2 linked regions of the Homo sapiens genome follow. Each later gene encodes a partner of the first gene's protein in a complex. Each region holds a gene or a part of one and is shown in the gene's direction. Other genes may lie near its edges. The genes, in order: DPP3 and AGT.

Region 1 (9,866 bases):
GGCTCAGCAGGGGCCTCTTGGGCAGTAAGGCCCTTCTACTGCCTCTGGCAGGTGGAAAACGAGTCCAACGTGCTGCAGGACGGCTCTCTCATCGACCTGTGTGGGGCCACACTGCTGTGGCGCACACCGGCGGGGCTGCTGCGGGCTCCCACACTGAAGCAACTGGAGGCCCAGCGGCAGGAGGCAAATGCAGCGCGGCCCCAGTGCCCCGTGGGCCTCAGCACTCTGGCCTTCCCCAGCCCAGCCCGTGGCCGCACAGCGCCCGACAAACAGCAGCCCTGGGTCTACGTCCGCTGCGGGCACGTCCATGGCTACCACGGCTGGGGCTGCCGGCGGGAGCGGGGCCCCCAGGAGCGCGAATGTCCTCTCTGCCGCCTTGTGGGGCCTTATGTGCCTCTATGGCTTGGCCAGGAGGCCGGCCTCTGCCTGGACCCTGGGCCGCCTAGCCATGCCTTTGCACCTTGCGGCCACGTCTGCTCTGAGAAGACTGCCCGCTACTGGGCCCAGACACCACTGCCCCACGGCACCCATGCTTTCCATGCCGCCTGCCCCTTTTGCGGGGCCTGGCTTACCGGCGAGCATGGCTGCGTCCGCCTCATTTTCCAGGGCCCGCTGGATTAGGCTCCCTGGGGCCCCCTGCTGCTGTGCCCACCTGCCCACCCAGGTCCCCACCTCCTGCAGCCCAGAGGGAGCTCTGCATGTGGGACACTCCCTGCTGGCACAGCCACACCAGATGGACATGTTGGATGGGCTGTGCCCTTCCCCCCAACTGTGGCCCCCCAAGGAGGTCCCCAAGATCTCCACCCCAGTCATGCTGATGGGGCCTTCAGCACCAGCTCTGTCCTGGGTCGATGGAGGAAAGCCCAGCCCCATGGCCTTGCCCTTCCTGGGGCATCCCACATCGTGCCGCCGACACTGTGTGCCCCTGGGGGAGTGAAGGGGCCAGGGGCCTTTGACCCCCAGCTTAGGCTGGCTATGCCCTGAGCCTGCCAACCCAGTTTCAGACACTCATCCTTCATCCTTCCTGCTGCCGCCCTGGGTTCCTCTATAAACCTCGCTGCTCAGCTGCCCCCACAAGTCCCACATGCCCCGCATGCGTGCAATGCCTCCAGCCCCCAAGTGAGTGGTGGGTGGGTGGCAGGCTGGGCCTAGCACTTGCTGATAGCCACTATGGGCTCGACTCTGTGCTAAGTGGTATCTGGGGACACAGAGGCAATCAGACCTGGTTCCCCCCCTGGTGGAGTTCACAGTCTAGTGGAGGACAGACTGTTAACAAATGGCAACACGGCTTCATGCGTGCCAGGATCAGAGTACAAATCAGGCTGTGGCAGGCCTCACTGGTAATGGAAAAGTGAGGGAGGCTTCACGGAGGAGGTGTCATAGGAGCTCAGCCTCAACGGCTGCTCGGAACCCTCCGAGTCCACAAGATGGGAAGCAAGTCCACAAGATGGGAAGCGTGCTCTATACAGAAGGGAGGGCCTGTGCACAGGCTCAGGTGTCAGTAAGCCAGAAATCCAGGGACAGAGTCAGGATGGCTGGAGCATGGACTGCGGGGGGAACAGAGAAGGGGGTGGAGCAAAAGGTTGGGACCATGTGACCAGGGAAGATGCTGGATGGAGGATTCTGAACCTCATTTGTGGACGGTCAGGAGTCAACAAAGGGAGGAGAGAGGACTCACTGGTCAAGAGTGTCGGCTGTGACACAAGGGCCATCATCCCTGAATGCCCACCATGTGCCCCGCACTGTGCTGATGATGATAATAATAACTACGTCCATTGAGCACTCTCCAGACACCGGGCTCTGCTTCTTGGAGGTTTTGTTATTTAATCCTCATAGTAACCCAAGAAGGGAGGTGTTGCCATTTTTGTCTCTGAGGAGATGAGGGCAGATGCACCAAGTCACACAACTAGAAAGTGGCCAAGCCAGGATTTGAATCCACAGCTGCTCCTCTCCATCACAGTGTTGCTTTCCTTCAACAGAGGTGGGGGTGAACCAAGCAGGGTTTTGGATACTAGATTGGTGGACACCCACCTGCTTCGTGCCCAGCCCTGCGCAGGGCCCCTGCAGTGGGCAAGGCCGGGCCTCTTGCAGCCCATGGTCTGCAGAGGGACCTACCCGTGCTTGTGTTGGAAGCTGGCCCCCACACCTGTGCTGGCCACCTGTACCCCAGGCCAGGATGCAGTGGGCTATTAGCCAGGCTGGAAGTGTTCAGAGGAGTGAGAACCAGGGGCTCTAGAAGGCCCAGGGAGGACCTGGAGCCTGAGCCAAGTCTTGAATGGCAGAGCATCTCCAGAGGCAGAGAGGAGTTGGGAGGGCAGCCCAGGTGAGGGGAACAGCATGGTGTGGCAGGGAACATGCCTGGTGTGGAGGGGGGCAGCAAAAAGGAATGGGGGGTAGGGAAGGTTGCTGGGGCCTGGTGGGCCTTGATTGCCATGGAAGCCAAGCCTGAACTGGATTCCTATTCATCCTGGCCACAGGTGGGCGTGTTGCTGGGGTTGCCCCAGACCATTCCTGCAGGGAGCGAGCCAGGAAGACAGGCAGACGGCTGTTCTGGAGATGAAGAGAAGAAGGCTCTGAGTATAGGCCTGACCTGGGCATCGTCCCCAATAGATGACAGAGCCTAGGGAAGTACAGATTCCAAGGGGAGGGATGGACCTGACCAAGGCCACACAGCTGGTTGCGGCCAGGGAGATCAGACCTGGGTTATTGAGAAGACAGAGGGCACCCGAATGTGATGAGAGAAGGAGGAGGGTGTGATCAGATTCTTGCTTCCAGAGCATGGCACTGCTGCAGTGGGGGTGAAGGGGAGGGTGGGGATGCTGCAGGAGGTGTGGGAGCATTCCAACTTCTCTCCCCTCAACATACACACAACACACAAAGCACTCAAAATCCAACTCTTCCAAGTTCTCTCTTCTGACCCTGTTGGGAACCAGGCAGGGGAACATTCTGATCCCATTTCCAGTGGGGAACCTCAGACCCTAGGAGGAAAGACCAGCAAAGGGCACCACAGTAGATGCTGGGGAGGATTCAGAGGTATTGGTGGAGGAGGTCAGAGCCCTGGTCTTGTCCCAGCTCTGCCTTTGCCAGCTGTTAGAGCCTCAGTTTCCTCAGTGCTAAAGGGGATAACAGTCACTACCTCGCCAGGTGGTTGTGAATATACAGAGAGCACCTGTAACACAGTTGATTCGTAACTGTTGCTCCTCACCGACCCCTTTTGCATTCCCATGGGGAAGAGCCAAGGCTGGGGAGTTATGACTCCAGTGATAGACTGCTCCATGTGAGTGACTGTGTGTGTGTATCTCTATGTTGGGGCCAGGGATATCTGAACTGTGTGGTGTTATAGGAGTCGGCGAACCTCTTAGCCTCAGTTTCCCTATCTGTACAATGGGTAAAGTGATCATACCTCAGGATTTTTGCAAGAATTAAATGAGGTCCTCCATGCCAAACTGCTAGCAAGGGACCTCAGTATATGCTCATCTTATCTGTGATCATAAAAATGTGATCACGTAGCTGGTTGGGGGGTCCTGAGAGCACTGGGGTCTTTTCCTTGCCTGAGCTGCCCCCTGCTGGCAGTGGGCAGCACTACCTCCCTTACCTGTGCACATTTCAACTTCACCTGTCAGCCAACTTTATACCCATTTTAAAGACAATGAAAACGGAGGCACAGGAAAGAAGAGGGGTGACTTTCCTAAGGACACCGACCAACTTGTTGAACTCCCCCATATAACAAGTAATCATCAAAGCTAACAGCTTGTAACACTGTTGTGTCAAGCAGGGCCTTGGGCACCTTTGTGGATGAGAAACTGGTGTCTATGGTAAGCAGAGGCTGTCTGGCCTAGACACGGGCGTAGCAAGGAGACCGTGCGGGATTTCAGTACCCAAACGCCCCTCACCCTGCGCAACTATAGGGAGCGGCACTGCAGTCAACACATCACAACTTACAATATCCCTTGGATTGGATTCAATTATTAGCCTGGTTTTCCGGTTCATAAAGCCAAGACTCCCAGACAACCTCACTCCACCCCCCAGTCTGACCCTGGGCCCTCACCACTACTCCCCATTTGGCCTAGGCCCTTCCGCATGCCCCACCCAGACCGTGGTCCCGTGAGTCCGTCCAGACCTGTAAAAGTGGACCGCGGGCCCGCCTCTGCTCTGGACTCCCTTTCGGGGCCGCAGGAGGCTTTCTCATCCATCAGGCATCTGGCAAGCACCAGGAAACTACCAGCCTGTTTGTGCTAAGGAAACTGAGGCTCGGGAATGTTTAGCGGCTCCTTCCAGGCCCGTGGCGGGTGGGTGGTGGTACAGTGAAGCAGTCGAGGCGTTTCTCCGCGCCCCTACACGGGTGGGACCACCTCAGCCCTGGCCCGATCCCACTCAACCGTAGCCCCGATTCCCGGCACCGAGAGCTTTGCAACTTCCAAGTCTCCACCCCCAGGTCCCGAGTCCCGAGAGGAAGGTGGAGCCACATTACTCCTATTGTGTAGGTTCCCACCTGCAAGAGTGCTGTCGGGTCCTCTGAGGTGAAACCCCAAAGGAAAGCGGGATCGGGACTGGGGGAGGGGGATTCCCAAGTCCCTGACACCCGCGCCGTCTCGGCCTGGGCTTGGTGACCTCGTCAGTCCCGTCTGCCGGGACTAGGCCGCGGCCAGGCCGGGCACAGCGGTACCCGGTCCGGCGCGTGTGCGGCCTGCTGACAAAAGGCCGAGCCCGCAGGGCCAATCCGCGCGCCACCCCGTAGCGCCTGGGGGCGGGAGCGGGCGAGCCGAGAAGCTCGTCTTGGCGCGTCTATTGGCTGGTACTGACGCCCATCCGGACCCCGAGGCCAGGCAGTTGGCCAAGGGGGGCGGGGTTCGCAGAGCCCCAATGAATGGGGGAGCCGGAAGCAGGAAGTGAGTTTGCGAACGGAGCAGCTGCTGCAGGTGAGGCGCGGCGCCTGGGCTTTTGGGGTCAAAGCGTGTCATCCCGGGGGACCAAGGCGAATCCATACTGAGCGCAAAATCGTTCCCTTTCTGCCCACTCTCCAGTACCCCCTCCAAATTCACCCCGCCCTCGAGGCCAAGGAGTGCTCCGGGGAGCAAAGAGTTAACAGCCCTTTCCGAACCTCGAGGCTGTGCTATTGGGGCGGGGCTTCTGGAGGCCGGGGCAGGGCGAGGAGGCTGGACACTCTGTCCCAGCCGGGACGGGGCGTGGCGGGGAGAATGCCCCGGGTTGGGGAATCCCCGGGTTCCAACGGGGCTGTCAGACCTTCAGTAAATTGTTGCCCTTTCCAAGCCTCAGTTTCCCTATCTGTAAAATGGGCTTTCTTCTGGTTGTGAACTTCTGTGGCTTCCCTGGTGGAGCACAGGGAGCGAGCAGGAGAATGGAGGGCCAAGGAAAAGGCATTTAGAGGGATGAGAATGGGACAGTTTCAAGCAAAATCATTTATTGCTGTGGATACTTTCCGTCCAGGGCGACTTCATCTGATTAGCGCACCCACCTGGTAATATTGGGGTTATTCTCTCTTTTATAGAGGAGGAAACGGAGGTACAGAAAAGTGAAGCAATGGACTTGACTTTTAGGAGTCTGGGGCCGAGTCCTGGCTAAAGGCTGAGCCTTCCAGCTGGCGGCCTGGCACTTTATCCTTGTGAGCACAGTGGAAAGTGTAAAGAATTCTGAACAAAGGCCAGGCGCGGTGGCTCACGCCTGTAATCCCAGCACTTTGGGAGGCCAAGGCAAGCAGATCGCTTGAGGCCAGGAGTTCGAGACCAGCCTGGACAAAATAGCGAGACCCCGTCTCTATCAAAAATACAAAAAATTAGCTGGGCATGGTGATGCACGCCTGTAGTCCCAACTACTTTGGAGGCTGAGGCAGGAGAATCGCTTGAACCCGGGAGGCGGAGGTTGCAGTGAGTCAAGATCATGCCACTGCACTCCAGCCTGGGCAACTAAGTGAGACTCCGTCTTAAAAAAATAATACTGAACAAGGAAGCAGGGAGGGGCCTGGGCTGGGAGCCTAGAGATGAGGATCTCTGCTGCTGATGTCTCCATTGTGGGATTAGGCAAGGCTCTTAGCCTCTCTGAACCTCAGTTTCCCCATCTGTAATACTAGGTAGTTAGAGTCAATCAATTTTTTTTTTTTTGAGGTGGAGTCTCACTCTGTTGCCCAGGCTGGAGTGCAATGGTGCGGTCTCAGCTCACTGCAGCCTCCACCTCCTGGGTTCAAGTGATTCTCCTGCCTCAGCCTTCCCAGTAGCTGAGATTACAGGTGCCTGGCACCAAGCCTGGCTAATTTTTGTATTTTTAGTAGAAAGGAGGTTTCACCATGTTGGTCAGGCTGGTCTTGAACTCTTGACCTCAGGTGATCCACACACCTCGGCCTCCCAAAGTGCTGGGATTACAGGTGTGAGCCACCATGCCTGACCTTAGAGTCAATCTTTAAGGTTTAGGGACTACAGACCAAATATGGTCCACCAGTGTATTTTGTGACCCCTTGGGTGAGTCATCTCACCTTCTCTAAGCCTCAGTTAGCATATCTGGTGAATGGGTACAATAGTATTCCCTTCCACATGGGCTTTTGGGAGGATTAAATGAGATCATAAGAGTTCAGAGCCAGGTATGCAATTGGTATGGGGTAAACAACAGCTGTGATGACAGTGATGGTTCTCAGCAGGGCCCATGGCGGACACCCAGTACATCCTGCCCAATGACATCGGCGTGTCTAGCCTGGACTGCCGTGAGGCCTTCCGCCTGCTGTCACCCACAGAGCGCCTCTATGCCTACCACCTGTCCCGTGCCGCCTGGTACGGAGGCCTGGCTGTGCTGCTTCAGACCTCCCCTGAGGCCCCCTACATCTATGCTCTGCTCAGCCGCCTCTTCCGCGCCCAGGACCCCGACCAGCTGCGCCAACATGCCCTGGCTGAAGGCCTTACCGAGGAGGAGTATCAGGTCAGTTCTCTTGGGCCAACCCACATTACCTGAGTGGCTTCTGGGTGTGAAAGACCAGGATGCAAATGTCTGTCTCTTTCAAGGGGTAGGTGGAGGATTAGACCAAAGGTTACAAATTCAGGCACTTCCCCTCTCTGGAGCCTCAGTCTTCTCACCCGTAAAATATGCATGTGGGATGTCTGTACCTCTTAGTGTTGTGATGACCCACTTAGAACAGTGCCTGACTTCAAGATAAATGATGGCTGCTGTGATTATAACAAAAGAAACTGTGGTGGAGATTCAGGGAAGGCAGAAGAAGGAGTCCAGAGTAGGTATCAGGAGGTCTGAGTTCAGGACCAGTTCTTCTCTACCACACTGTGTGGCCCTGGGCAGAATGTTCTGCCTGTCCCTTGGTTTTTGTTTTTGGATGTATTGGCCAAGTAATACACAAATTCTTAGTGCATTGCAGCAATGCAGAAAGACACAAAAGAAAACACAAAGATCACTCATTCTCAGTGCCCTCCTCAGAGGTAACCCACTGAGGCTGATACAGCCTTTTCTTTCTCTCTCTTTTTTATTTTTTATTTTTTTTTTGTGACAGAGTCTCATTCTGTCACCCAGGCTGGAGTGCAGTGGCGTAATGTTGGCCCACTGCAAACCTCCACCTCCCAGGTTCAAGCACTTCTCATGCCTCAGCCTCCCAAGTAGCTGGAACTACAGGTATGTGCCACCACACCGGGCTAATTTTTGTATTTTTAGTACAGGTGGGTTTTCACCATGTTGCCCAGTCTGGTCTTGAACTCCTGGCCTCAAGTGATCCACTTGCCTTAGCCTCCCAAAGTGCTGGGATTACAGGCGTGAACCATCGTGCCCAGCCTTGGTTACAGCCTTTTCAATCCCATCTGTGTATTACATACATTTATGTGTATATGCATGGTGAATCAGTTCCTTATTTTCTTTTTTATAGAAATGAGATAATGTTCTTTTCCTGCTTTGTGTCCTGCTTTTTCCATTGAATGCCATGTCTTGAAGAACTTGGAGAATGGGGTACATTTAAATGTACCTCATTCTTTTTTATTGACTGTAAAGCATTCCACAGCAGTGTACACTATAATCAATTTAATCTTCATTACTGGACATTTAGCTTGTCCCGTTTTTCTTACAAACAGTGCCATGGTGAGCATACTTGTGCACACATGTGAGGAGGATCTATTTCTAGAAGAACTGCTGGGTCAAAGGCTCTGTACATTTACAATTGACTGATTCTGTTAAATCATCTTCTAAAAAAGCTTCACTGCATTATATTCCCACCAAGAATGTACAAGAATATGGCCTGTTTTTCTATATGTGAAATAAAGGGATTGGATTGTTTCTCTCTGAGCTGATGTACTGTTTATTCTACCTCTTTTGAACTTTGGGCATTCACTTCCCATCTTGAGGCCTTGGCTTACTCATTAAAAGAGCTAATATCCGTGGAAATGTTTATAAACAGAAAGGTGCAACCCAAGCGTTATTATTTTCAGGGAAATTCTTTTTTTTTTTTGTGGGGGACGGAGTCTCGCTCTGTCACCAGGCCGGAGTGCAGTGGCACAATCTCAGCTCACTGCAACCTCCAACTCCCTGGTTCAAGCGATTCTCCTGCCTCAGCCTCCTGAGTAGCTGGTATTACAGGCATGCACCACCACGCCCAGCTAATTTCTGTATTTTTAGTAGAGATGGGGTTTCACCATGTTGGCCAGGATGGTCTCAATCTCCTGACCTCGTGATCTGCCCGCCTCGGCCTCCCAGAGTGCTTGGGATTACAGGTGTGAGCCACCACGCCTGGCCATTTAGGGGAATTCATATGTTTGCAAGTGGCAGAAACCCAGCTCAAATTGGCTTACATGAAAAGGAGAATTGTTGGGTCACATGCTTGAAAAGTCCAGGTCTAGAGGAAGTTTCAGGCATGGCTGGACTCGGACTCAGTGCTACCACTGGGATGCAGTCTTCGTCTCTCAGCTTGCTTGCTTTTCTTACTCCTGGAGGGGAGCTCCAGGAGTTCCAGGCCTGATGATCCCTGGTGTACAGAGGCTCTTTGCCAATGGGAAATGTCCTGGGTAGCTCTCTTATGCCAGCTTGAGCCTTGTGTCCATCCTGTAGCCAAGGATGGTGGTTTCTCAGACTGACTGAGCCAGGTTACATGCCCACCCCTGGAGCTGGGGGAAGGGAGATCCCCCACCCCACCCTCCCACCCACAAAAGGAGGATTGAGGTCTTGTTACCAGAGGAAGATCTGGGGCCAGCAGAAGCCATAGAATAGACAGATGATTAAGGCCTCTCCGGCTCTAACATGTGATGCTTCCAAGGCCAGCTGCCTGACAGGTCAGAGGCTGAGGACAGGCTCTGGAGAAAGAGGGAGGTGCTGCTGGAACTGGGCCTTAAAGGACACAGTAGCTTCAGGTGGCTGAGAGGGTGCTGGGGTGGGGAGGGAAAAGGCAGACGAATGCTTGGGTGTGTTTGGGAACTGCCCAGAAGATCAGTTAGGCCAGACAACGGGGGTGTGAAAATGGGTCTGTGGAAGTGAGTGTGGGCCAGACTGGGGCTTCCCAGGACCTAGGTCCTGCCCACACATTTCCCAGCCTCACCCACACTGGCTCTGCTGGGGCATTCGCATCTCAGGAGGAGGTGTCGCTGGGGTCAGGGAGGCTGTGCTTCCTGGGTCTCTGATGCCTGCCTCCCCCTCAGGCGTTCCTGGTCTATGCCGCGGGTGTTTACTCCAACATGGGCAACTACAAGTCCTTTGGTGACACCAAGTTTGTTCCCAACTTGCCCAAGGTGAGCCAAGGGAGGGTTGGGGAAGGTGGGGATGGGGGGCTGGTGGGGTAGAGATGGAAAATGCAGTAGAAGGAGCCCCAACTGGAGTGTCAGAAGCCCTGAGCAGAGCATGGACCCTGTCGCTTCCACCCTGCATGACTGTGGGTGTCA
Region 2 (8,967 bases), on another chromosome or scaffold:
CTGAGGATTTTCTAGGCCTCCCCTTTCCTTTCACTAATCACCTACAATCCCAATATCCACCCCCTAAACCTTTTCTAATAAAATTATGCCCTGCCTTAAAGCCATCTCAGGGAGACAGGTTTGAGCTTGACCCCTGTTGCAATAGAAAGCTTTTCTTTTGTCAAAAACCCAGAGTCATAGCACTGGCTTCTAGTGCATCAGGCAGCAATCACTTTTTGCTTGATAACACCATTTTTCATAAGTACCTGAAACTGGATTCACTAATTATGTCAGCTAATGTTGACATTGATAGAGGTAAACGACTCATTTCTTATTTATAAATCTGCAACTGTTGACAAGAAAAGCCATTGGCTTGGTTATAACTTTTGAAATGTGCTGCAATTAGCCAGGTGTGGTGGCTCATGCCTGTAATTCCGGCACTTTGGGAGGCCGAGGCAGGCGGATCACGAGGTCAGGAGATCGAGACCACCCTGGCTAACACGGTGAAACCCCGTCTCTACTAAAAATACAAAAAATTAGCTGGGCATGGTGGCGGGCACCTGTAGTCCCAGCTCCTAGGGAGGCTGAGACAGGAGAATGGCGTGAACCCAGGAGGCGGAGCTTGCAGTGAGCCGAGATCCCGCCACTGCACTCCAGCCTGGGCGACAGAGCGAGACTCCGTCTCAAAAAAAAAAAAAAAAAAACATAATGATAATAATAATAATAAAAAATAGAAAGAAATGTGCTGCAATCACAAAATTTCCCAGAACTTTATCTTATATGACCGTTTTCCTCCAGCTCATGGACAGCTATGTCTGAATCAACAGCAGTCCATAGGGCACTGCCCGAGGTATCAGGTGATGTCTAAAAGGATTCAATAGGAGGAGCAGGCATCTGGGAATATACCAAAGGAAATAAAGTCAACACCTAGTAACAATATCTGCACTCCCAAGTTCAATGCAGCATTATTCACAATAGCCAGGATATGGAAACGACTTCTGTCTGTCAACAGATGAATAGATAAAGATTTGGCATACTGTATACACACAATGGGATACTATTCAGCCTTCAAAAAAGCATAAAGGCCAGGCATGGTGGCTCATGTCTTAATCCCAGCACTCCGGGAGGCTGAGGTGGGCAGATCACTTGAGCTCAGGAGTTTGAGACCAGCCTGGGCACCATGGTGAAACCCTGTCTCTACAAAAAAGTACAAAAAAGTTGGCCAGGTGTCATGGCATGCATCTGTAGTCCCAACTACCAGGGAGGCAGAGGTGGGTGGATCACTTAAGCCAGGGAGGTCAAGACTGCAGTGAGCCATGATTGTGCCACTGCACTCCAGCCTGGGTGACAAAGTGAGACCCTGTCTCACAAAAAAAAAAAAAAAAAAAGCGGTGTGGAACTGTGCCGCTTGCTACAACATGGATGACTGGAAGACATTATGCTAAATGAAACAAGGCAGATACAGAAAGGAAAATACTGCATGACCTCATTTATATGTGGAATCTTTTTTTTTTTTAAAGTGAATATACAGAGATAGAGAATACAACAGTGGTTACCAGGAGTTGAGGAGGAGAGCAGGGAGGAGATGTAGGTCAAATGATACAAAGCAGCAGATATATACGATGAACAAGTCTAGAGATCCAGCGTACAACATGAGGACTATACTTAAAAATGTCACATTGCACTTGGGATTTTTGCTAAAAGAGTAGACTTTACGTGTCCTTGCCACCTAAATGAGTAACTGTGAGATGATGGATATGTTAATTTTCTTGACTACCATAATCATTTTACTATCTTCATATCAAAATATCATGCTGTACACCTTATATAAATACAATAAAAATTATTATTAAAAAAGAAAGAACAGGCTGAGAATGGTGGCTTATGCCTGTAATCCCAACACTTTGGGAAGTTGAGGTAGGAGGATCACTTGAGACCAGTAGTTCAAGATCAGCCTGGGCAACATAGCAAGACCCTATCTCTACAAAAAATAAAAATAAAAAAATTAGCCAGATATGGTAGCATGCACCTGTAGTCCTAGTTACTCTGGAGACTGAGGCAGGAGGATTCTTTGAGACATGATCATGCCACTGCACTCCAGTTTGGAGGACAGAGCAAGACCCCAACTCTAAAACAACACACAAAAATACAGCCATTTCTCCTGGGTGAAATGGGGGAGCTCAGACTATTTTGTTTTATTTGTCAGGAGTCTAAAGCCCATGTGAGCCAACTTAAGAAAATTCTGTTTGTATTTGAGTGTTCTTTATTGGAAAGAAATGGACTTTTCCCTAATGAGCCCATTTTACAAATCGAGAGCTCCAAATGCCCGGTTCCAGCCCCCATGATATAGATGGGCAGCAATGAGGACCAGAAATGCTGGGAAGTGTCCTTGTCATGCAAGGAAAACTTGGAACTTCAAGGATCCATCATGGGATGCAGGACAGTAGGCTCCACCCCTCTTCCTGCTTTCCAGTAAATGATGTTCAGGGCTCACATGCCTCTTCCAAGGCATGATGTGGGGTTGCAGTTCTGATCCCAGCAGAGAACAAGGCTCCTGTGAAACAATTAGTTTTGGCTCAGAGGCAAAAAATGGAAACCCCATTCCTGTATTTACCCTTCATTCTTTCCTTACCTCATACAGCTGGTTCCAGGTTTGATTGCATCATATACATAAATAAATAATCTGCTTTCCTGGTTTGGTTTAGTTTTGCTGGAGAGAGGAGTTTATGTGTTCATCCCATGACTAGCTGGGTGGTCAAGAGATTGGAAAGTAGGAGTTCTAGTTTAGACCAAGTCTCATCTCAGAAACCACAGAGTAGAACTGATCCCAAACGTCATCATCCCTGTAGGGAAAAGAAAGAGAGATCAGACTGTTACTGTGTCTATATAGAAAGGGAAGACATAAGAGACTCCATTTTGAAAAAGAGCTATACTTTAAACAATTGCTTTGCTGAGATGTTGTTAATTTGTAGCTTTGCCCCAGCCACTTTGACCCAACCTGGAGCTCACAAAAACATGTGTTGTATAAAATCAAGGTTTAAGGGATCTAGGGCTGTGTCAAAGTGGCTGGGGCAAAGCTACAAATTAACAACATCTCAGCAAAGCAATTGTTTAAAGTACAGCTCTTTTTCAAAATGGAGTCTCTTATGTCTTCCCTTTCTATATAGACACAGTAACAGTCTGATCTCTCTTTTTTTTCCCTACATATCCCAATAGCACCTGCCTGACTAATACATCATGCTCTGCTGACTCCATATGTGGCTGGTTTCCTGGATCCGATTCTGACTGATGGTATCTGTTCTCACGCTGCTAATAAAGACATACCAGAGACTGGGTAATTTATAAAGAAAAAGAGGTTTAATGGACTTATGTGTTCCACGTGGCTGGGGAGGCCTCACAATCATGGTGGAAGGTGAAGGAGGAGCAAAAGCACATCTTACATGGTGGCTGGCAAAAGAGAGAAAGCATGTTCAGGGGAACTCCCCTTTATAAAACCATCAGATCTCATGAGACTTATGCACTATCACAAGAACAGCATCAGAAAGATCCACCCTCATGATTCAATTACCTCCCACTGGGTCCCTCCCATGACACATGGGAATTATGGGAGCTACAATTGGAGATTTGGGTGGGGACACAGCCAAACCATATCAGATGGCTTATTTGGTTTCTATGTAGAACCTCTGCTTTTCATTCAACAGTCTTCATTTAGCCACAGATAAGCTCTGTCCCTAACTTCCACTGATGGAATGTACACATAAGAAACTTCCACTGATGGAATGAACACAGAAGGTGCCTACTGGGAAGAAAACTGGCCTGAATCTGAGCTGGGTCAAATGTCTGCAGTCAGTTTGAATGGCTGCTCCTTATGGGAATAATTTACATTCTCAATAAAATTCTCTAGCAATTTTCTGATTGATTTTAATGAGCTTTAAAGCCTTACGTAGAAGATCCCCCAGCTGATAGTCAGCCTTGGGCATGGATTAAGGGCTTTTAACCAATCTTGCAACAAGTTTAAGCAGATATTCTTTATTGGGTCCAATCTAACCAAAATTATTTTCTTATGTTCTCCCCAGTAACGTGTCATTATTAAGAGAAGTTTGGCTTGCTTAGAGGCCAAATTTAGAGGGTCCTGAAATTTTATTTTCTTTTACACCACTTTCCAGCATGTTACCTGATCAGTTGTTTATTATCTTTGCTGTTGAATGGAGTGATCATTCCAAGGGCCCGAGGCAGGAGGCCCAGGCACAGTGGAAACTCTCCCAAAGACCAGGATCTTTGTTTTGTTCCCTGACATATGCTGAGCACCAGGAATAGTGAGTGAATGAAACAAATTGTGAGGCTTTAAAGAGCCGAAATATTTAAACACTGGGCACAAGGTTGTTGCTTAATCAGTGCTAGATCCTTACCTCCCCCTTGTGTCCAGGTGGACTTGTTACTGCAGTTAAACCACTTGCTGATCCTCAAACAACTAGTTAGTGGCACAGCCAGGCCTAGGACCCCAGTCTCTACTGTTCCAACTAACCCATTCGCAGGCAGGAGCACTTTGAATGGTCTCTTATTTTAAAAAAATTAAATTAAAATTGTCTATTTATTTAGAGACAGAGTCTTACTCTGTAGCCCAGGCTCGAGTGCAGTGGTGCAATCATAGCTCACTGTAACCTCCATCTCCTGGCCTCAAAAAGTGTTTGAATTACAGATGCGAGGCACTGTACCTGGCCCGAATGTTCTGTTCAGACAAAGCCACCTCTAAGTCGCTGTGGGGCCCCAGACAAGTGATTTTTGAGGAGTCCCTATCTATAGGAACAAAGTAATTAAAAAAATGTATTTCAGAATTTACAGGCCCATGTGAGATATGATTTTTTTAAATGAAGATTTAGAGTAATGGGTAAAAAAGAGGTATTTGTGTGTTTGTTGATTGTTCAGTCAGTGAATGTACAGCTTCTGCCTCATATCCAGGCACCATCTCTTCCTGCTCTTTGTTGTTAAATGTTCCATTCCTGGGTAATTTCATGTCTGCCATCGTGGATATGCCGTGGCTCCTTGAACCTGCTTGTGTTGAAGCAGGATCTTCCTTCCTGTCCCTTCAGTGCCCTAATACCATGTATTTAAGGCTGGACACATCACCACTCCCAACCTGCCTCACCCACTGCGTCACTTGTGATCACTGGCTTCTGGCGACTCTCACCAAGGTCTCTGTCATGCCCTGTTATAATGACTACAAAAGCAAGTCTTACCTATAGGAAAATAAGAATTATAACCCTTTTACTGGTCATGTGAAACTTACCATTTGCAATTTGTACAGCATAAACACAGAACAGCACATCTTTCAATGCCTGCATCCTGAAGGCATTTTGTTTGTGTCTTTCAATCTGGCTGTGCTATTGTTGGTGTTTAACAGTCTCCCCAGCTACACTGGAAACTTCCAGAAGGCACTTTTCACTTGCTTGTGTGTTTTCCCCAGTGTCTATTAGAGGCCTTTGCACAGGGTAGGCTCTTTGGAGCAGCTGAAGGTCACACATCCCATGAGCGGGCAGCAGGGTCAGAAGTGGCCCCCGTGTTGCCTAAGCAAGACTCTCCCCTGCCCTCTGCCCTCTGCACCTCCGGCCTGCATGTCCCTGTGGCCTCTTGGGGGTACATCTCCCGGGGCTGGGTCAGAAGGCCTGGGTGGTTGGCCTCAGGCTGTCACACACCTAGGGAGATGCTCCCGTTTCTGGGAACCTTGGCCCCGACTCCTGCAAACTTCGGTAAATGTGTAACTCGACCCTGCACCGGCTCACTCTGTTCAGCAGTGAAACTCTGCATCGATCACTAAGACTTCCTGGAAGAGGTCCCAGCGTGAGTGTCGCTTCTGGCATCTGTCCTTCTGGCCAGCCTGTGGTCTGGCCAAGTGATGTAACCCTCCTCTCCAGCCTGTGCACAGGCAGCCTGGGAACAGCTCCATCCCCACCCCTCAGCTATAAATAGGGCATCGTGACCCGGCCGGGGGAAGAAGCTGCCGTTGTTCTGGGTACTACAGCAGAAGGTAAGCCGGGGGCCCCCTCAGCTCCTTCTCGGTCTTGTCTCTCTCAGATGTAACTGAGCTGTGGGCTAGGAGGAAAAGGCCGGGAGGAGGCACGGTGATGACTGAAAAACCTCTCCCCTCTCATAAGACCAGTCATCCGGACGCGGGCTTTCCCCCACTCGGTGCCCACCTGGGGTCTTACAGGAGGAGCTGCTCCTCCTCAGCAATAGGACAAGATGGTCAGGTCTTCCTGCTTCCGCTGAGAAAAGTTAGGGTCCTCAGGAACGGAGCAGACTGGTACAGGAACAGAGTCATCATGGCCAAGAGTCCACCGGGTCCTCTTGCCATCAGGAGGAATAGCAGGGCTTGTGCAGGAATTGGGGCTGGAGGGAAGGGCCGGGCTCGGTCAGTCTCCAGCTGGGATCCCCAGAGTGGTCACCCTACCCCTCCCTCGAGACAGACTGCCTGACTGTGTGTCATCAGGCTGGTCACCATCTCCCTGAACCTCGATTTGCTCACCTATAAAATGGAACTAATAACGATGCCTGGGCTCCCTGTCTCAGGGGCTCTGGTATAGCTGAAGAGAACTAATATAACATGAAAGTGCTTTCTAAGCTTTGGGATAAGCTAAAAGGCAGATTCCAATTTTATTCGAGGGCAGCGTAGATTGGTGCTTCAGCTCGTGGATGACAGAGTCAGGGGGCCTGGTTCTGAGTCCTAGTTCTGTCTCTTCCCAGCTGTGTGACGTTGAACAAGTCACTGGACCTCTCTGTTCCTCTGCAAAACAGCATGAACCAATTCATTAACTACTTCTCCAGGATGCAGTAGGTCCCAGGGACTATCCTAGGAATGTGGGCTGTATTAGTAAACACAACAGCGGGAACCCTGTTCCGGGGCTCACATTCACATCAGAGCAAACAGACAAAGACGCTGGACAGAATAAGTGCATAACTACATGGTACAGAGGGTTATAAGGAGGGAAAAGGGGAGCTGGATGAGAGAGTTGAGAGTGCCCGGTGTGGTGGGGAAAGCTGCAGGGTGAAATACTGCATCAGGGAAACCTCAGGGAAGGTGAGGACTATGGTGAGGTCAGAGGGGTTGATATGAGAACAGTGCCCTGCAAATGGCAGGCACCACAGGAGCATGAGCCGTCATCTTCACCTTTAGCATTCAGCCCGGGAGAAGTAGGGAGACATAGAAGGGGCAGGTGCTGGCCAAGAGGCAGGGGCAGGAGAGGAGAAGGCGGAGGGGCACTCAGGGCGAGGGTGTCAGGCCCGCCACCCCAGAGCACCATTACTCCCAGGACGCGGCTGCGTGCAGACCTGGAACCAGCCTAGGGAGCAGCCGCAGATCACAACTGAGAACAAACGACAGTCTCTGCCTCAAAAATGGCCCATGGAATTGCGTCTCTGGAGACGCTGCCTGAGCAGGAGCAGCACAGTGAGCGGGCTGCATCGACCAGCGCCATCCAAACCCCGAACAGTTGGCGCTTGTCAGGCAGGACTTCCCAGCAGTCGGTTCCCACAGGTTTCCCCTGTTGACCTGATTTGATGTGACTGTCTAGATTAGGTGTGAACTGGTGGCTTAGGCTTCTCTGCACAGAAAGGCCTGCAAGCAGCAGAGAGAGTTTTCTGTTCCATTTTTCCATGTCATGTGGCTCTTCCTGAGAACAGCGGATGGAGTCAAATGCATGGGGAGTGGGGTGAGATGGTAGCTGAGGTCAGAATTTGGCATTTGAATGACTGAAGCAGAACAAAACACACCAGGTACTTCAGCAGCTGCACCGTGTTGAGGGCAGGTGCTGGTTACGGGTCTGGGTGAGGGAAGCCAGCTGCCAATGTAAGAAGAATGACTGGGTATGCTTAGATGAAGCAGAAAAATCTAGGCATCAAGGTGGCCTTGAGTCAGTGATGACACGCTACAGCTCCAAGGAAGCCTGGCCTAGCCCTGGGGGGACAGAAAAGGCCAAGAAGTGACGATATTGCAGTACACCCCCCTCCACAAGAAATGAGTGAGATGTGGTACAAAATGTTAGAATTGAATGAATCAATAGAATAAACGTTCATCCCTTCAATCAAGAAGAGTCAGATGAAATGAATTAGCAGGGCCAGCCCAAGAACCTCTTCTGGGGGTCTCAGGGTAGCTTTCATTTGTAGCAGCTGAGGCTGAAGCCCAGCTGCAAGGCCTTTGAGAGAACGTGGTGCTGGACCCGTGTCTAGGGCAGGGGTTCTAAACCCTGCTTACATATCAGAGTCACCTGAGAATTTTCTATTTTTTTTTTTTTTTTTTTATACGTGGTCCCAGCACAGACTAAGGAATCCAACTATCATTGGGCAAGCCATGCTAGGTATGCATGCCTTTGGGGCTCTGCAGGGGATAGCGCTATGCAGGGATGGTTGAGAGCTGGTTTTGGGGTTGAGACACGTGGGAAATACTTGGACTTTGGGCTGAGCCTGTGGTGCTCAATCCCGGCTGCATGTTGGGACCACAGGGAGATGACAAAACCATCCCCAGCCCTCACCCTAGGGCCCTCGAATGAGCATCTCAGGGGTCTAGGAGGCCTCCACAAAGACCTACTGATTGGCACACACTTGTTTCTCTAGGAAGAGAACTTACAGCTGCAGGCAGGAGCATGTCTTAATCTGCTTGGGCTGCCATAAGTACCACAGACTGGGAGGGTTTAACAACAGAAATGTGTTATCTCACAGTTCTGGAAGCTAGAAGCCTGGGAGCCAGCCATCAGCAGAGTTGGTTTCCTCTGGGTCCTCTATCCTTGGCTTGTAGATGGCCGTCTTCTCTCTGTGTCCCCACATGGTCTTCCCTCTGTGTCCCCACATGGTCTTCCCTCTGTGTGTGTCCATGTCCTCATCTCCTCTTCTCATAAGGACACAGGTCATATTAGATCAGGGCTCACCCTCATGGCCTCATTTTAACTTAATCATCTCTTTAAAGATCCTGTCTCCAAATAATGGTCACATTCTGAG

What was found.
Region 2: the proteins of DPP3 (region 1) and AGT are in contact, whole or in part, in a crystal structure (PDB 5E2Q), measured with the Homo sapiens proteins. Residues at the interface, in NP_005691.2 of Homo sapiens: Phe109, Glu316, Tyr318, Glu329, Phe381, Gly385, Ile386, Pro387, Ala388, Gly389, Ile390, Asn391, Ile392, Asn394, Arg399, Val412, Leu413, Val415, Ala416, Phe443, Val447, His450, His455, Glu507, Glu508, Asn545, Arg548, Leu552, Glu555, Phe556; in NP_001369746.2 of Homo sapiens: Asp25, Arg26, Val27, Tyr28, Ile29, His30, Pro31, Phe32.

Annotation. Positions count from the first base shown.
Region 1 is NC_000011.10:66,475,547-66,485,412, forward strand, and holds the start of DPP3 (dipeptidyl peptidase 3), read left to right. Parts: upstream 1-4,887; 5' UTR 4,888-4,919; intron 4,920-6,646; 5' UTR 6,647-6,654; coding exon 6,655-6,924; intron 6,925-9,626; coding exon 9,627-9,716; intron 9,717-9,866. Other genes in the region: PELI3 (E3 ubiquitin-protein ligase pellino homolog 3), read left to right, coding at 52-621. UniProt on the Homo sapiens protein: Cleaves and degrades bioactive peptides, including angiotensin, Leu-enkephalin and Met-enkephalin. Also cleaves Arg-Arg-beta-naphthylamide (in vitro).
Region 2 is NC_000001.11:230,711,123-230,720,089, reverse strand, and holds the start of AGT (angiotensinogen precursor), read left to right. Parts: upstream 1-5,967; 5' UTR 5,968-6,004; intron 6,005-8,967. UniProt on the Homo sapiens protein: Essential component of the renin-angiotensin system (RAS), a potent regulator of blood pressure, body fluid and electrolyte homeostasis.